Homo sapiens: one gene and its partners. Changing the gene in region 2 together with the main gene of any one other region gives a genetic interaction. Each region holds a gene or a part of one and is shown on either strand. Other genes may lie near its edges.

Region 1 (3,933 bases), on a different chromosome or scaffold from region 2:
TGAGAAGCAACAGGGTGTCACATTAAGAGCACAGACTCCAAAGTTTTGAACCCCTATTCAGCCACTTGCTGTGGCATTGGACGAGGGATTCAGGGTCTCTGTGCCTCAGTTTCCTTGGCTGTGAAATAGTCTAAGAATAGTACCTACTGCCTAGGGTTGAGCTGGGGATTCACTGGGGTGGTAGGCATGGAGCACTGTAACCCACCTGGCCCAGGGAAGGTGCTGTGTAAGTACTGTGTATTTTGTTGTGGTTAGTATATTATGATGTGGCAGACAGTTATGAAGTACAGACATAACAGGTGACATTCATTATCCTCCTGCTACCGCCATTCTCAACCAGGGGCAATTTTGACATCTGGGGACATTTGGCAATGTTTGGAGACATTGTGGTTGTCACAGCGTGGCGGGGGGGGGTATGATTGGCATCTCCTGGGTAGAGGCCAGGGATGCTAAATCCTTCTGCAAAGGACAGCCCCTGTGGCAAAAAATTCTCTGGCCCCAAATGTCAATGGTGCCATTAGAAACCTTGCCCTGGCCAGGCACAGTGGCTCATGCTTGTAATCCCAGCACTTTGGGAGGCCGAGGCGGGTGGAGCACGAGGTCAGGAGATCAAGACCATCCTGGCTAACACGGTGAAACACCCCCACCCTGTCTCTACTAAAAATACAAAAAATTAGCCAGGCGCGGTGGCAGGCAGCTGTAGTCCCAGCTACTCGGGAGGCTGAGGCAGGAGAATGCCGTGAACCCGGGAGGCGGAGCTTGCAGTGAGCTGAGATCACGCCACTGCACTCCAGCCTGGAAGACAGAAAAAAAAGAAAAAGAAAAAGAAACCTTGCTCTAATAGAAGCTTTCTGGTAGCACCAAAGGCCTCTCTGTCCTTTGTAGCACTTGCCTTGGCTATAATTTTGCATTTATTGGTATGATTATTTGCTTACTACCCATCAAGTCCCAGGATGCCATTTCTTGGCTGTGTGACCTTGGGCCCCTGGGACTGCCTTTCAGAACCTCCATTTCCTTCATCTGCAAATGGGATTGTAAATATGTGATAAATTCAGAGTTGAGGTTAAGACCACAGGCTCCAGAGTTAAGACGTACCTGTGTTCAAGTTGCATCTCTGCTAGTGGTGAACTTAGGCAAGTCACCTGATGAACCTCAGTTTCCTCCGCTGTGAAATGGGTCTAATAATTCCCTTCCTCATTCAGAGGGTGAATATGGGAATTAAAGGAGCTCATAATGGTGAAAATTATTTTATTATTATTAAATCCACCATCCAACAACTGGTTTTCTTTGAGCCCTAAGTATGTTCCGGACTTGGTGACTATGTAGTGGGTATTATGGGCTTAACGGGCAATGTCTGCCTTGCAGAGCCCATCATCTCATGATGTGGGAGGGGTCTGGCCTGGTTCATCCTCCAGCACTGACTTCTGACACTCCCACCCCACCCCTGCCCTCTTGCAGATCTGTGCCATCATTGGCGGGACCTTCACCGTCGCCGGCATCCTGGACTCATGCATCTTCACAGCCTCTGAGGCCTGGAAGAAGATCCAGCTGGGCAAGATGCATTGACGCCACACCCAGCCTAATGGCCGAGGACCCTGGGCATCGCCAGCCTTGCCTCCAGTGCCCTGTCTCCTTTGGCCCTCAATCTGGTCCCAAATCTGGCTGTGTCCCAAAGGGTGTGTGGGAAGTGGGGGGAAAGTAGAGGATGGCTCGATGTTTTGCAGCTACCTCTTTTCCCCGTGTTTCTTTTTAGACAAATTACACTGCCTGAAGTTGCAGTTCCCCTTTCCCTGGGGAGCCCCAAGAACAGAGTCAGGCAAGGGGTGGGGAGTCCAGGGATCTTGGGGACCCCTCCTAGGAGAGCTGCAGTCTCTTCCCTCAGGGGAACATCCCAGAATGCATATCGATCAGCTCTCAGCCAGGCTTCGACAATCTCGCAGCCCCCACTAGGTGGACACATTAATGATTTGGTTTCTCCCCTGGGCAGCCAACCTGCCCCAGAGGCACCAGACCTGGGCTTTCAGCTTTGGGACCAGGCTGCCCAAAGGTACTCCTTTATACACCCGGCACCTTCCACGAAAGATGGTACTTCCCAAGCAAGCCCCTATGATTTGTCACTATAGATGGAACCCTGACTTCTGCCCCATCCCTTCCTGCCCAACCTAGAACCCAGGCCTCAAGTCTTTACCCCACCCCTTTCTTGTTCTTCCAAGAAGCAGATGCCCAGTTGCTCAGCAGCAGCGGTAGAGACTTGAATCTGCCCACCAGTCACAAGGCGGGTCACAGATTCCTCTTCCTCTCTTCTCCTCGTTCCTCTGAACCCTCCACCAATGTGCCTCAGCCTGTGTGCTGTGTGGCAACAGCATTCTGGTTCCCACTGCCAAGATCTCCCACCACTCTGCTGGGATCTGCAGTGGCAGGGAGTGGGGGTTGTGTAAAGGGGAAGTCATCTTTTGAGATCCAGATAGACATGGTTTGTGCACTTACGTCCAGATGGGAAGCATCCTTCCTGCAACCCTAAAATAATCATGCAGCCTCTCAGACGGACGCCATCGGTCCCAAGGCCTTAGGTGGAGGAAGCAAAGCAGGCCAGGCCTGTCCTGTCCGTGGACCTCTACCTTCTGGACTCCCTACGGGTGCAGAGCACTTGGGTTTCTCTACAGCCATCGTGGCCCACTTGACACTGTGCTCCTCCATCAGCTGGTCACATGCCAACACGTTCCCAGCCCCTGAGGCAGCTCCAGGGTGCCCCACCTGCTCCTGAGGTGGGTCCCTACCCTGCTGCTCCTCTTCATCCTTTCCCTTTTGTCCTGAAAGGGAGGAGCAATGGTCCAGGCATTAATTCCACCCAGGGAATTTTAGCTATGCCCTCATGTCCCAGGGAGAGAGCCACACGCCTGTTTTCCATTTATAGCAAGATTGTTTGCATACTTTTGTAATGAAGGGGAGTGTCCAGTGGAAGGATTTTTAAAATTATCTTATGGATAGCTCAAGTCTCTGCCATTTGTAATTTTTGGCTCTAAGCTCCGATTGGAGACGCTTCTCCTTGTGCATGTGAGTTGACTGATGTTGTGAGTGTAAATGCATTTGGTTATTTCTGGTATCGGTGGCCACTTGGATGGATTTTTTTACATTCTGTTCCCCAGTTACAGGAAGGAGTCCCTTTGGTGTGTGAATATGTGTGCCTGTAGAGGGTGGGGCAGGGTGGGGTGGGGATGGAAATGTGTGGCATGCACATGAGTTGAAATTCTTTTATGCATTTTTTTGAAGAAAAAAAAAAAAACAACTCTGAGGACATAGGGGATGTCAGTTTCCTATGGAAGAGACACCTCTGACCCGTTATTCTTATAATCAAAATCTGAAGGGAAAAAAATGTTTTAGTTCTTTCCCCACTCGTTGGGTTCAACTAGATTAAAAGGCTGATTTTCAGAAATATTATGGTGTGATTCTTTCTACCTTGACTGGGGCTGGGTGACCCAAAGGCTGGAATCACAGCCAGAATGGAATTCACTTCTAGAGGAGAGAAGGTAGAAGAGTTGAAAAGGAGATCTGTGAGGATGATCAGAAAGTCAAACCCCGGCCAGGCACGGTGGCTCACGCCTGTAATCCCAGCACTTTGGGAGGCCGAGGTGGGCCAATCAGGAGGTCAGGAGATCGAGACCATCCTGGCTAACATGGAGAAACCCCGTCTCTACTAAAAATACAAAAAATGAGCCAGGTGTGGTGGCGGGCGCCTGTAGTCCCAGCTACTCCAGAGGCTGAGGCAGGAGAATGGCATGAACCCAGAAGGCAGAGCTTGCAGTGAGCCGAGATCGTGCCACTGCACTCCAGCCTGGGCGACAGAGCGAGACTCCATCTCAAAAAAAAAAAAAAGTGAAACCCCCTTTGGCCAGGTGCAGTGGCTCACACCTGTATTCCCAACACTTTTGGGAG
Region 2 (5,142 bases):
AATTCTTAGTAGGAGACTAGTGAGCGATAACAAGGCAAGAGCTGCAACATTGTATGCTACCTGTACATAGAAGTAAGTGGTTGAGAGTAATGTTGGGCCTGATGCCTGCCACAGCTCACCAGGAATGCCTCAAATGTAAGACCACAGATCTTGGGGGATAGCTGTAAAAGAAGGCTGGTAGATGCCATTGCCAGTCACCAATTGGCACAATAGCATAGGGGCAGAAGACTAGAGGAGGAAATCCAGAGAACTTTGGTGGGTGGAGGCGGGCACAAATGCAAAGGACACATGGAAAGAAATTATTTTGACTTACTTTTCCAGGTAGAAGATTTCGTGGATCCCAATGGCAAGATCTCTCTACAGCGGGAAGAGACACCATCAAACCGGTAAGAGCAGACCAGAGGCTCAGGGGCTTGGGGAGGGAGAGTCAGAACTTTGGGGCTCACCAGGCCATGTGCCCTTTTTCTACAGAGGAGAGTCAACAGTGCTGAGCTTTGTGAGCTGGCTAACACTGAGTGGTCCTGAGCAGTCTAGTGTTCGGGGCCCATCCACTGAAAACCAAGAGGCCAAGAGAGTGGCCTTAGAGTGTATAAAGGTAACTGCCCATCCACCCCTGGTGAGAAAGCCTAAACACCTTCCTATTAGATGCTACTTGGTGAACTGAAGAATAAATCATCCAGGATTTGTAACCAGGGCTGACTCTGCCCTCTCCCCCTGGCTCTTGGGGACATTCTGTTCTCTTCAGCCTTTGTCAAAGACCCCCTCTCTCTTTTGCCCTCTCTAGCAATGTGACCCAGAAAAAATGATCACAGAAAGCAAGTTCCTCCAGCTGGAGTCACTACAGGAGCTCATGAAGGTAAAGGATGAAGAAAGGAAACATGGAACAACTGGCTGAATCTGGGAGGGGTGACAGGGACAGTATTATTTCTGTCAGGGCAGGGCCAGTGGTTGGCTTCTTTTCCATGCCTACTTTCCTGCTGCTGTTCCCCTTCAGGCTCTGGTCTCAGTGACACCAGATGAAGAGACATATGATGAGGAAGATGCTGCTTTCTGCCTAGAGATGCTGCTAAGGATTGTGTTGGAGAACAGGTAAGATGAGCGTAGTCTTTAGGCAGACCCCATGCTGGGCTTGTGCCAAAGGGATGGAAGCCATCTTGCTGAGTGGGCTCTGGGGAACTGTAGGCAGCAGGGGAGAAGCTTACTCATCATACCTGTCTACTTAGGGTATAATACCAATGAGTCCTGAAAGGCCTAGGGGACCTGTTGCCCAGTGGCCCCTCTGGCTGAGACTATCTTCATTCCTTTATGTCTACACAGGGATCGTGTGGGCTGTGTGTGGCAGACTGTTCGAGACCATCTATACCACCTCTGTGTTCAGGCACAAGATTTCTGCTTCCTTGTGGAGCGGGCAGTGGTGGGGTTGCTACGCCTGGCCATTCGGCTTCTCCGGAGAGAAGAGATCAGTGCTCAGGTAAGCAGAATGCATCTTGGAGAGTGGGCAGGTATGCAAGGGATTAAGGCCACAGTTGTCAATTATGAATATGGCCTGAGACAGAGAGTACATTTAGTGCCCCATAGCATGAGTCCAGTGACCAACCACAGGGCTGGTGCAGTCTAGCGGGTGGTACTGGGAGTGAGCCTGGAATGGCCTCAGGCATGGAGCTTGTGTTTGGCACCTCAGCCTCCTATGAATCTGCTTTGTAGGACTGGCCTGCTACTGCCTTATAATAGTCTCAGCCCTATACCTGGTTTCCTGTCATGCTTATGACCCTCTTGAGATCTCTTTGCTTAACTACAAAAAACAACAAGCATAGAACTAATAAGTGGATTCAACAAGGTCACAGGATGTGAGATCAATACACAAAAAGTAATTATATCTCTACATGCTAACAATGAACAATATGGAAACTGAAATTTAAAATACAATACCATTTACAAGGGTTCCAAATAAAGTGAAATACTTAATATATAGCTGACAAAACATGTATAAGATTTGTATGATGAAAACTACAAAACTACAAAATAAATTGAAGAAGATGTAAATAAATGAAGAGGCATACTATGTTCATGGATTGGAAGGCTCAACATAGTAACTTTGTCACTTCTCCCCAAATTGATCTGTAAATTCAACATAACTCCTATAAAAATCCCAGAAAGGTTCTTGTAGACATAGGTAAGCTTATTCTAAAATTTAGATGGAAAGGCACAAGCTCTAGAATAGCTAGAAAGAATAAAGTGGAAAGAATCACTCTCTCTGGGCCGGTTGCTGTGGTTCATGCCTGTAATCTCAGCACTGCGGGAGGCCACAGCGGGCAGATCACTTGAGGTCAGGAGTTCAAGGCCAGCCTGGCCAACATGGTGAAACCCCATCTCTACTAAAAACACAAAAATTAGCAGGGTGTGGTGGCACACACCTGTAATCCTAGCTACTTGGGAGGCTGAGGCAGGAGAATCGCTTGAACTCAAGGCGGAGGTTGCAGTGAGCTGAGATCGCGCCACTGCACTCCAGCTGGGTGACAGAGTGAGATTCTGTCTCAAAAAAAAAAAAAAAGAATCACTCTGGTATTAAGACTTACTGTCCACTTTGGGGGGCTGAGGCGGGTGGATCACGAGGTCAGGAGATCAAGACCAGCCTGACTAACGTGGTGAAACCCCGTCTCTACTAAAAATAGAAAAATTAGCTGGGCGTGATGGTGAGCGCCTGATTGCTACTCGGGAGGCTGAGGCAGGAGAATCGCTTGAACCTGGGAGGCGGAGGTTGCAGTGAGCCAAGATTGCGCCACTGCACTCCAGCCTGGGCAACACAGCGAGACTCCATCTCAAAAAAAAAAAAAGACTTACTCTCGGCTGGACACAGTGGCTCACGTCTGTAATCCCAACACTTTGTGAGGCCAAGGCAGGCAATCACCTGAGGTTGGGAGTTCGAGACCAGCCTGACCAACATGGAGAAACCTCGTCTCTACTAAAAATACAGAATTAGCCAGGCATGGTGGGGCATGCCTGTAATCCCAGCTACTCAGGAGGCTGAGGCAGGAGAATCACTTGAACCTGGGAGGCAGAGGTTGTAGTAAGCCAAGATCACACCATTGCACTCCAGCCTGGACAGCGAAACTCTGTCTCAAAAAAAAGACTTACTGTATAGCTATAGTAGTCAAGATTATGTGGTGTCGATGGAGGGACAGACACGTAGATCAATGGAAAAGAATAGAGAGACCAGAAATAAGCTCAACACAAATATGTTCAGTGGATTTTTTGACCAAGATGTAAGAACAATTCAGTGGAGGAGGAATAGCCTTTTCAATAAGTGGTGGAGTGATTAAAATCCATAGGAGGAAAAACCAAATGAACCTTGACCTAAACCTCATACCTTACAGGAAAATTAACTCCAATGGATCATAGATTTAAATGTAAAGCTATAAAAACTTTAGAAACAGGAGAAAATCTTCAGGATCTAGAGCTAAGCAAAGAATTTTTAGCATGTTTGGCAGTCCTGTGGATCTGTCTCTTGCCTCAACACTGTCTGGATGGAACAGATCCGGGGGAGACTCTCTTTCAAAAAAAGTAATAATTTTTAGACTTGACATTAAAAGCACAATCTAGAAAAGGAAAAATTGATAAGTTGGGCTACATTAATATTTTTAAAAGTTTTGTTCTATGAGAGCCTATGTGAAGAGGATGAAAAGACAAGCTGTAGACGAGGAGGAAATATTTGCAAATCACATATTTGAAGAAAGGTATCTGTAATATAAAAACTCTCAAAACACAACAGTGATAAAACAATCCAATTATTAATAGAAAATGGACAAAACATAGGAACAGATGTTTCACCAAAGAACACATACAGATGGCAGATAGGCACATGAAATGAAGATAGCATCATTAACCATCAGAGTACTGCAAACTAAAACCACAATGAGGCTCACACCTGTAAGCCCAGCACTTTGGGAGGCTGAGGTGGGTGGATCACCTGAGGTCAGGAGTTTGAGCCCAGCCTGGCCAACATGGTGAAACCATGTCTCTACCAATAAATACAAAAATTAGCTGGGCGTGGTCACACACACCTGTAGTCTCACCTACTGAGGAGATTGAGGTGGGAGGATCGCTTGAACGCAGGAGGTTGCAGTGAGCTGAGATCGTGCCACTGCACTCCTGCCTGGGTGACAGAGCAAGACTCCAAAAAATAAAAACACAATGAGACATCACTACCCACTTTTCAGAATGGCTGAAATAAAAAGTAGTGACAATACCAAATGCTGAAAGGACGTGGAGAAACTGGGTCATTCATATATTGCTGGGTGGGAATGTAAAATGGTACAGCTACTCTGCTGGCAGTTTCTTATAAAATGAAACATATAATTACCATACAACCCAGCAATTGCACCCTTGGACATTTATCCCAGAAAAGTGAAAGCTTACTTTCTCATAAAAACCTGTACATGAATGTTTATAGAAGCCTTAGTTGTAATAGCCAAAAACTGGAATCGGCCCAGATGACTTTCAATAGGTGAATAAACTGTGGTACATACACACCATGGAATACTATTCAGCAATTTAAAGCAACAGACATCTCCAGGGAACTATGCTGAGTGAAAGAAAAGCCAATCTAAAAAGGTTATGTAATATATAATTCCACTTATATAACATTTTTGAAATGACAGAACTTTAGAATTTGAAGACAGGCTGGGCGCAGTGGCTCACACCTGTAATCCCAGCACTTTGGGAAACTGAGGCTGGTGAATCACTTGAGGTCAGGAGTTCGAGACCAGCCTGGCCAACATGGTGAAACCCCATCTCTACTAAAAATACAAAAATTAGCCAGGCGTGGTGGCTCGCACCTGTAATCCCATCTACTTGGGAGGCTGAGGCAGGAGAATCACTTGAACATGGGAAGCAGAGGTTGCAGTGAGCTGAGATCCTGCCTGCACTCTAGCCTGGGCAACAGAGTAAGACTCCATCTCAAAAAAAAAAAGAATTTGAAGACAGATTGCTAAGGATTAGGGATGGGGGCAGGAAGGAGGAGGTGGGTGTGGTTATAAAAGGGCAACATGAGCTGGGCATGGTGGTGCATGCCTGTAGTTCCAGCTACTCTGGAGGCTGAGACAGGAGGATCACTTGCGCCCAGGAGTTTGAGGCTGCTGTGAG
Region 3 (3,500 bases), on a different chromosome or scaffold from region 2:
AGGCCAGGTTGGGAGGATCACATTGAGGCCAGCCTGGTCAACATAGCAAGACCCCGTATCTATTTGAAAAAAATAAAAATAAAGCAATAGCGTCTGTATTTTATTTTGTTTATTTTTTTTGAGATGGAGTTTCACTCTTGTCTCCCAGGCCAGAGTGCAATGGCATGATCTAGGCTCACTGCAACCTCTGCCTCCTCAGTAGCTGGGATTACAAGCGCCCGCCACCAAGCCCAGCTAATGTTTGTATTTTTAGTAGAGACGGGGTTTCACCATGTTGGCCAGGCTAGTCTCGAACTCCTGACCTCAGGTGATCCACCTGCCTTGGCCTCCCAAAGTGCTAGGATTACAAGCATGAGCCATCACACCCAGCCAGCTTCTGTATTTTGTATATATTTTTTAAATAATTATGTTTTTTTTCCTTTTGAGTAGCTGAGACAACAAGGACATGCCATTAGACCTGCCTGGCTAATTTTTGACATTTTTTGTAGCAAGAAGGTCTCACTATCTTGCCTGTTCTTGGGCTGAAGCGATCCCGCCCACCTCGGCCTCGAAAAGTGCTAGGGTTACAGGGCGAGCCACTGAGCCTGGCTGCATTGTCCTATTTTAAGTCTGGTTTCTGTATCTTGATCCATGATAAGATGTAATGTTGTTAAGTGAATCCTTAAATTATGTATATATCCAAAAATACTAATGTGTTCTGCAGAGGAATTACTAATTCTGATCTCTTTACTTTGAACTTTCCAGTTCTTGCCTGTTGAAAAGCTGAAAAAGTGTTACTTTTAAAAAGTTTGCTGATATCAGTGTAGTGTAGTATGCCAGTGTAGTTCTGTATTGTCTTGAATGTGACTGTGGTTTTGGGGGTCTAGAGATGTTCAGGAGAAAGGATCCTATATTTGTCACTTTAAAAAATATTACCAAGCTAAAGAGTGGTGTTTTATATTTGTTTCTTAGCATATTTTGTAAATCCATCTATTTATGTAATTTTTTTATGTTTTTCCTCTTGATTCTAAAAGTAGTATGTGTTCCTTCTGTTACATTTAGAAAACAGGTAAAAGAATAAAGTGATAATTACCTATCTGTAATTCCACTATTCTGTCATATTTACTCTCAGCCTTATTTTTATTTTTATTTTTTGAGACAGGGTTTTGCTCTGTCACCCATACTCTGGGGCACATACAGGTGGCATGATCATAGCTCACTGTAGCCTTGAACTCCTGGATTCAAGCAATCCCTCCTGCCTTAGGCTCTGGAGTAGCTAGGACTACAGGCGCCACTATGCCCGGCTAATTTTTAAATTATTTTGTAGAGAATGGGGGTCTTGCTCTGTTGCCCAGCTGATCTCAAACTCCTGGGCTCAAGAGGTCCTCCTGCCTCGACCTCCCAAAGTGCTAGGATGACAGGTGTAAGCCACCACACCTGGTACACGCTCAGCCTTTTAAGAGGAAGTTTTTGTTCCTCTAAAATTGTAGTTGTGATGTTTAGTTTTGTGTCCTCTCTTTTTGATTTAGCTTATTACAAGCATTTTCTCAGGTTATTGGTTGAACATATAACTGCCAGCCTTTAAAAAAACAGGCTCTTCTGATTATGTGAATATAGGAAACAGAAAAGGCAAAAATCCTGTTTCATGCCACTGGCTGATAGGTACAGCCATCCTTAGATGCACCCTTTTGCATTATTATAGTAGTGCAATAGGCTGTCGGAAACTTTGATAATTTGCTGCTAATTAACTGATAAAAATGTAGATGTTTCTCATCCGTGTGTAGAAGCAGAACCTAAGTTCACATTTTTCCGTATAACTGGTGGCCTGAGTTTCAGTTTGGTTGGTCAAGCATCTGATGAATTTGATAAAAAATATTTGAGATGGAGTCTCACTGTGTCACCCAGGCTCGAGTACAGTGGTGCAATCTCAGGTCACTGCAACCTCCGCCTCCTGGGTTCAAGCAATCCTTCTGCCTCAGTCTCTCCAGTAGCTGGGATTACAGGCCCCCTCCCACCATGCCCGGCTAATTTTCATATTTGTAGTAGAGAGGGTTTCACCATATTGGTCAAGCTGGTCTCAAACTCCTGACCTCAGGTGATCCACCTGCCTCATTCTCCCAAAGTGCTGCGATTACAGGCATGAGTCACCGTGCCTGGCCAAAATATTAAGATACAGTATGTCCACCAGAAAAACCTAAAGGCAGGATGGCAGCATGTAAATAGTATTTGAGGTCTCTGGCATCAGAACTAGGTTTTTTGGTTTTGGCTTTTTAGAAAATTTTTTAATAAAAAAATCAAGATATAATACATAGACCATAAAGTTTACCCTGTTAAAGTGTACAGTTCCGTGGGTTTTAGTATATGTATTCAAAGTTGTGTAACCATCACCATTGTCTAATTCCAGAATTTTTCATCATCCCTCAAAGAAACCTGATACCCATTAGTAATAATTCCCATTCCCCTTTCTTCCCAGCCCGTAATCTGTTTTCTGTTTCTATGGGTTAATCTATTCCGGACACTTCATTTAATGGAATCATGATTTATGGCCTCTTTGTCTGGCTTTTTTCACTTGGCATGATGTTGTCAAAGTTCATTCATAATGGCCGGGCGCGGTGGCTCACGCCTGTAATCCCAGCACTTTGGGAGGCTGAGGCGGGCAGATCACGAGGTCAGGAGTTCGAGACCAGCCTGGACAACATAGTGAAACCCCATCTATACTCAAAATACAAAAATTAGCCGGGTGTGGTGGCAGATACCTGTAGTCCCAGCAACTCAGGAGGCCGAGGCACGAGAATCCCTTGAACCCGGGAGGTGGAGGTTGCAGTGAGCTGAGATCGTGCCATTGCACTCCAGCCTAGGTGACAGAGTGAGACTCTGTCTCAAAAAAAAAAAAAGAAAAGAAAAGAGAAGAAAAAAGTTCATTCATATTATAGCGTATATTAGTACTTCATTCTTTTTTTTTTCCTTTTCATTAAATTCACATAAGCACCTCATTTCTTTTGATGGCCAAATAGTAATTACATTGTATGGATAAACCACATTTTATTTATCCATTCATCAGATGATAAAAATTAGGTTGTTTTCACTTTCTAGCTCTTCAACATTCATGAACAAGTTTTTGTGTGGGCATGTGTTTTAAATTCTCTGATAAATACTTAGGAGCGGAATTGTGTCATGGTAACCGTCTTGAACATTTTGAGGACCTGACAAACATTTCCATTTTACATCCTCGTTTACATCCCCACTAGCAATATATGAGGGTTCTAATTTTTCTGCAAGACTCAGGTTTTTAAATATCTGTTCTTCTGTTTCTGTGACTGTGGGGGACATTTCTGGACATTAAATGTCTCATCTGAAAAATGAAAGGTTATTGTGAGAATTAAAGTCCAAAAATGTATAGAATCACCTACTATGCTTAGAATGCAGTAAATATTCAATTTTAAATTATTATTTTAAACTATTACGCAGCCTGGGCACCATACCATGGCAAGACCTCATCTCTACAAAAAAATTTTAAAAAT
Region 4 (3,500 bases), on a different chromosome or scaffold from region 2:
GCAGCCCCTTACCTCCCACCCCCACACCCCAAGAATCCCCAGTAATTGTGAGAAGGCAGAACTGCCACTTACTTTCCATAAGGAACGTTTCTAGCAGAAGGCACTGCTGCATAATAGAAATTTTTGTATTCATCCATCCAGACCTCTGCTGCCCGGCGGGTGTTTCTAGAAAGAAAATAAATCTTGAGGTGTGATTTCCTTTCTTTCTGTCTGCATCACTCCATTTGCACCTGTCTGCTGGCGTGTGACTGAGGCGGCTCCCTCTGGGTGTGCAGCAGCTCCAGCTGGGATCACGGCACACAGCAGAGGGTGGGCTGTCCCCACCAGCACCTCGAGCTGGACCTGTGGGGAGCCAGCCTCAGCGGGTGCTTACTGAACCATTGGAATGGCTTTCTTGTCACACAGATGGTCAAAGGGCAAAAGGCAAAGTGGAAATTACAGCACGAGCCAATATTTTAAAGGAGGGACTGGGGTCTATATCTTAAAGAAGGACAAAAGAAAGTTACTCTTTAAAAACTCTCACATTACGCGTCCACAGAGGGCCGGGGCCACAGAGCACAGCAAGGAGATTCCAGGCCCCACGGCCTTCTCCGTCACGGCTACGACACTATCAGACAGCTCTGCATTAAAGTTCAGACTACATAAGATAAGAGTTCCTGGGAAAATCACTTTCTTTTCTGCGGGGCTAAGCTGAAAGACTGCCATGTTTGCACTAGCTTTTTTTTTTTTTGATGGAGTCTCGCTCTGCTGCCAAGCTGGAGTGCAGTGGCGAGATCTCGGCTCACTGAAACCTCCGCCTCCCGGGTTCAAGCGATTCTCCTGCCTGAGCTTCCTGAGCAGCTGGGACTATAGGCATGTACCACCACACCCAGCTAAAATTTTTGTGTAATTTTAGTAGAGACGGTTTCACCACATTAGCCAGGATGGTCTCGATCTCTTGACCTTGTGATCCACTCGCCTCAGCTTCCCAAAGTGCTGGGATTACAGGCGTGAGCCACCGCGCCCAGCCGGCTTTTCTAGAAGGAAAGAAAACCATGTACTTAAATCTCATAGAGAGAACCATGATTTGCCATAAATAAAGCCCCTGGGACAAGCTACTCTTGAATGTCTGACATGCATTAAAAGCTATCATCTGCATAGGTATCAGCAGTGTATTCTGCCAAGAATTATCTTAAAGCATCCATGAAGTAGCAAGCACACAGCTAACCTCTTTGCTCCCATATTCTGGTCTCGGCTATAAGGTGGACTCCCACTTCAGGCTATAGCTAGCCCTCCTTAAGAACCCCATAGGAAGGCACTGTGTTCTTCCAAAATAAATACAGTAAGGAGGTAATGCTCGCCTTTTAAAATAATTCCTTAAAATGGCGAAACTTTCAACTGATCTGAGATACCATTATTAAAATAATTTCTGTATGGGGCCTATATCTTTCATATAAGGTGATATATATACTTTTTCATTTTAGTAAGTAGAATATGGACTATTATCCATAATGCCATTCAACACAGATAAGAACATATGAATGCACCTATTCTCTGACCCAGCAGCTCTACTTCTAGAAATTTATCTCAAGGCAGCAATCAATTAGGAATGAAATATACATGTGAAAATATGCTCACTTCTGCTTTGTTTATAATAGCAAAAAAAAAAAAAAAAAAGAGAAACTTTATGACTAAATATGAGGAAGGAATCAAATGAAATATTCTGTGACCACTAAAAACATGAGTGTGCATCTTACATGTTGACAGAAATGATGTCCTGGACTTGTGGGAAAATAAAATAGTTTGCAGAATTGCATATAGTGGATATGTGTGTAGAGGCAGAAGGAGAGCCAGTGAGCAAACAAGAGAGAGAGACAGAAATAGATACTGACAGACGAATTCATCAAATTATGAGAGTGTTATGGCACAACTGGTTTGGTGATGAGACTGATGAATTTTTACTTTCTCTCTATTAAAAAATATACAGATACAACAATGAGTACTTAAAGTGCTGGGGGATACTGGATCATACATATCATTTCTCAGAAGAGCCACTAAACATTGTTAGTGGGGTTTTGCTAAGTGACCTATGCCTTAACCTATGCCTAGTCAGTTTTTAACCAGTTATTAACTTAAATACTTGTAACATCTGGCACCTGGATTTCCCCAACAGGGACATGAAAGGATTTGATTCCAGAATGTCCTAGGTTCCTTTCAGCCTTAATGATTTAAAGGTTTTATCAACTCCAGTCATACTGTTTTCAAATCACTCAAGTTTTTAAGTGACTAAATCACTTAAAAATTCCTAAACGCAAAGCAACTCTTTTCTGTCTTTGTAATAGAAAAGGATAACTAGGCAGCCCCAAGGAATGATCTCCATGTGCTACTCAGTGCTAGCTCCTTTTATTCATTTATTTATTGGTTCACTCAGGTATTTATTTGGTATCTACACCAAACAGTCTCAGTGCTGCAGATACAGTGGCACCGAGGGAGACTCACTTTTGTCCAGGCCCTCCTTGTTTTTGCAGGTATTTGCAAGTATTTAGGTAGTATTAAATAAGTATTAAATAAATATTAAATGTCATCTATTACAAGTTGGGCATCCCTAATCCAAAATGTCCTAACATCCAAAACTTTTTGAGCACCAACATGAGATAGTGACGAAACTGCCTTTGCAAAAAATTTAACAATGACAAAATTGACAGTTTAAGGCATCTGACCTGACTGACTCCATCTAACTTCTAACGTCTAAACTGCCCTTGTTCACTCCTGGGCATAGGCAGAACTAACTTTGGGAGAAACTTAGTTTATAGTTTAACTTTAAAACAAAGATGGTAACAGCCCTTTCCCCAAACAAACCCTCTTTTTGTCTGGGTACCAGACTGCCTTTGTTGGACTAACAAATCAGCCACAGATTTGCAACTTCCCCAATTACTCCTGCAGATAACATCACCATTGCAGAACGTAAGATTGGCCTTTTGTAATGTCTTTTCAGGCTTCTGCACTTCTGATGACTCCATCCAGATCTCCAGCTTGTCCTGTGGACCCATCCATGCAGAAGCAGACTCGGCAGGCACAAGGACCATTTTCCACACCCCTATGATTGCACCTCATCCAATCAGCAGCACCCACTCCCTAGTCCCCAGCTCCCTCCAGATTATCCTTGAAAAACCCTAGCCTCTGAATTTTGGGGGAGATTGACTTAAGTAATAAAATTCCAGTCTCCCACTTAGCCAGCTCTGTGTGAACTAAACTCTTTCTCTATTGCAATTCCCATCTTGGTAAGTCAGCTCCATCTGGGCAGCGGGCAAGGTGAATCCAGTGGGCGGTCACAGTGACGCCTTTGCTTTCTGATGGTTTAATGTACACAAACTTTGTTTCATGCAGAAAATTATGAAAAGTATTGTATTAAATTAACTTCAGGCTATGTGTATAAGGTCTATATAAAACAAACAAATTTTGTACTTTGACTTAGGTCCCAGCCCCAAGATATCTCATTAGGTAGTACATATAAATATTCC

Evidence for each region. Genes that interact genetically often act in the same process or in processes that back each other up.
Region 1: changes in GBF1 (region 2) and ERGIC1 together harm fitness less than expected from each alone (positive genetic interaction), as found in Homo sapiens cells (one study listed by BioGRID).
Region 3: changes in GBF1 (region 2) and ARF4 together harm fitness less than expected from each alone (positive genetic interaction), as found in Homo sapiens cells (one study listed by BioGRID).
Region 4: changes in GBF1 (region 2) and GALNT2 together harm fitness less than expected from each alone (positive genetic interaction), as found in Homo sapiens cells (one study listed by BioGRID).

The regions. Positions count from the first base shown.
Region 1 is NC_000005.10:172,949,251-172,953,183, forward strand, and holds the end of ERGIC1 (endoplasmic reticulum-Golgi intermediate compartment protein 1), read left to right. Parts: intron 1-1,458; coding exon 1,459-1,566; 3' UTR 1,567-3,433; downstream 3,434-3,933. UniProt on the Homo sapiens protein: Possible role in transport between endoplasmic reticulum and Golgi.
Region 2 is NC_000010.11:102,369,390-102,374,531, forward strand, and holds part of GBF1 (Golgi-specific brefeldin A-resistance guanine nucleotide exchange factor 1), read left to right. Parts: intron 1-321; coding exon 322-386; intron 387-471; coding exon 472-595; intron 596-784; coding exon 785-856; intron 857-994; coding exon 995-1,089; intron 1,090-1,317; coding exon 1,318-1,471; intron 1,472-5,142. UniProt on the Homo sapiens protein: Guanine-nucleotide exchange factor (GEF) for members of the Arf family of small GTPases involved in trafficking in the early secretory pathway; its GEF activity initiates the coating of nascent vesicles via the localized generation of activated ARFs through replacement of GDP with GTP.
Region 3 is NC_000003.12:57,590,845-57,594,344, reverse strand, and holds part of ARF4 (ADP-ribosylation factor 4), read left to right. Parts: intron 1-3,500.
Region 4 is NC_000001.11:230,259,238-230,262,737, reverse strand, and holds part of GALNT2 (polypeptide N-acetylgalactosaminyltransferase 2 precursor), read right to left. Parts: intron 3,261-3,500; exon of another isoform or gene 3,157-3,260; coding exon of another isoform or gene 2,975-3,156; intron 166-2,974; coding exon 73-165; intron 1-72. Other genes in the region: uncharacterized protein LOC124904542, read left to right, coding at 2,975-3,156. UniProt on the Homo sapiens protein: Catalyzes the initial reaction in O-linked oligosaccharide biosynthesis, the transfer of an N-acetyl-D-galactosamine residue to a serine or threonine residue on the protein receptor.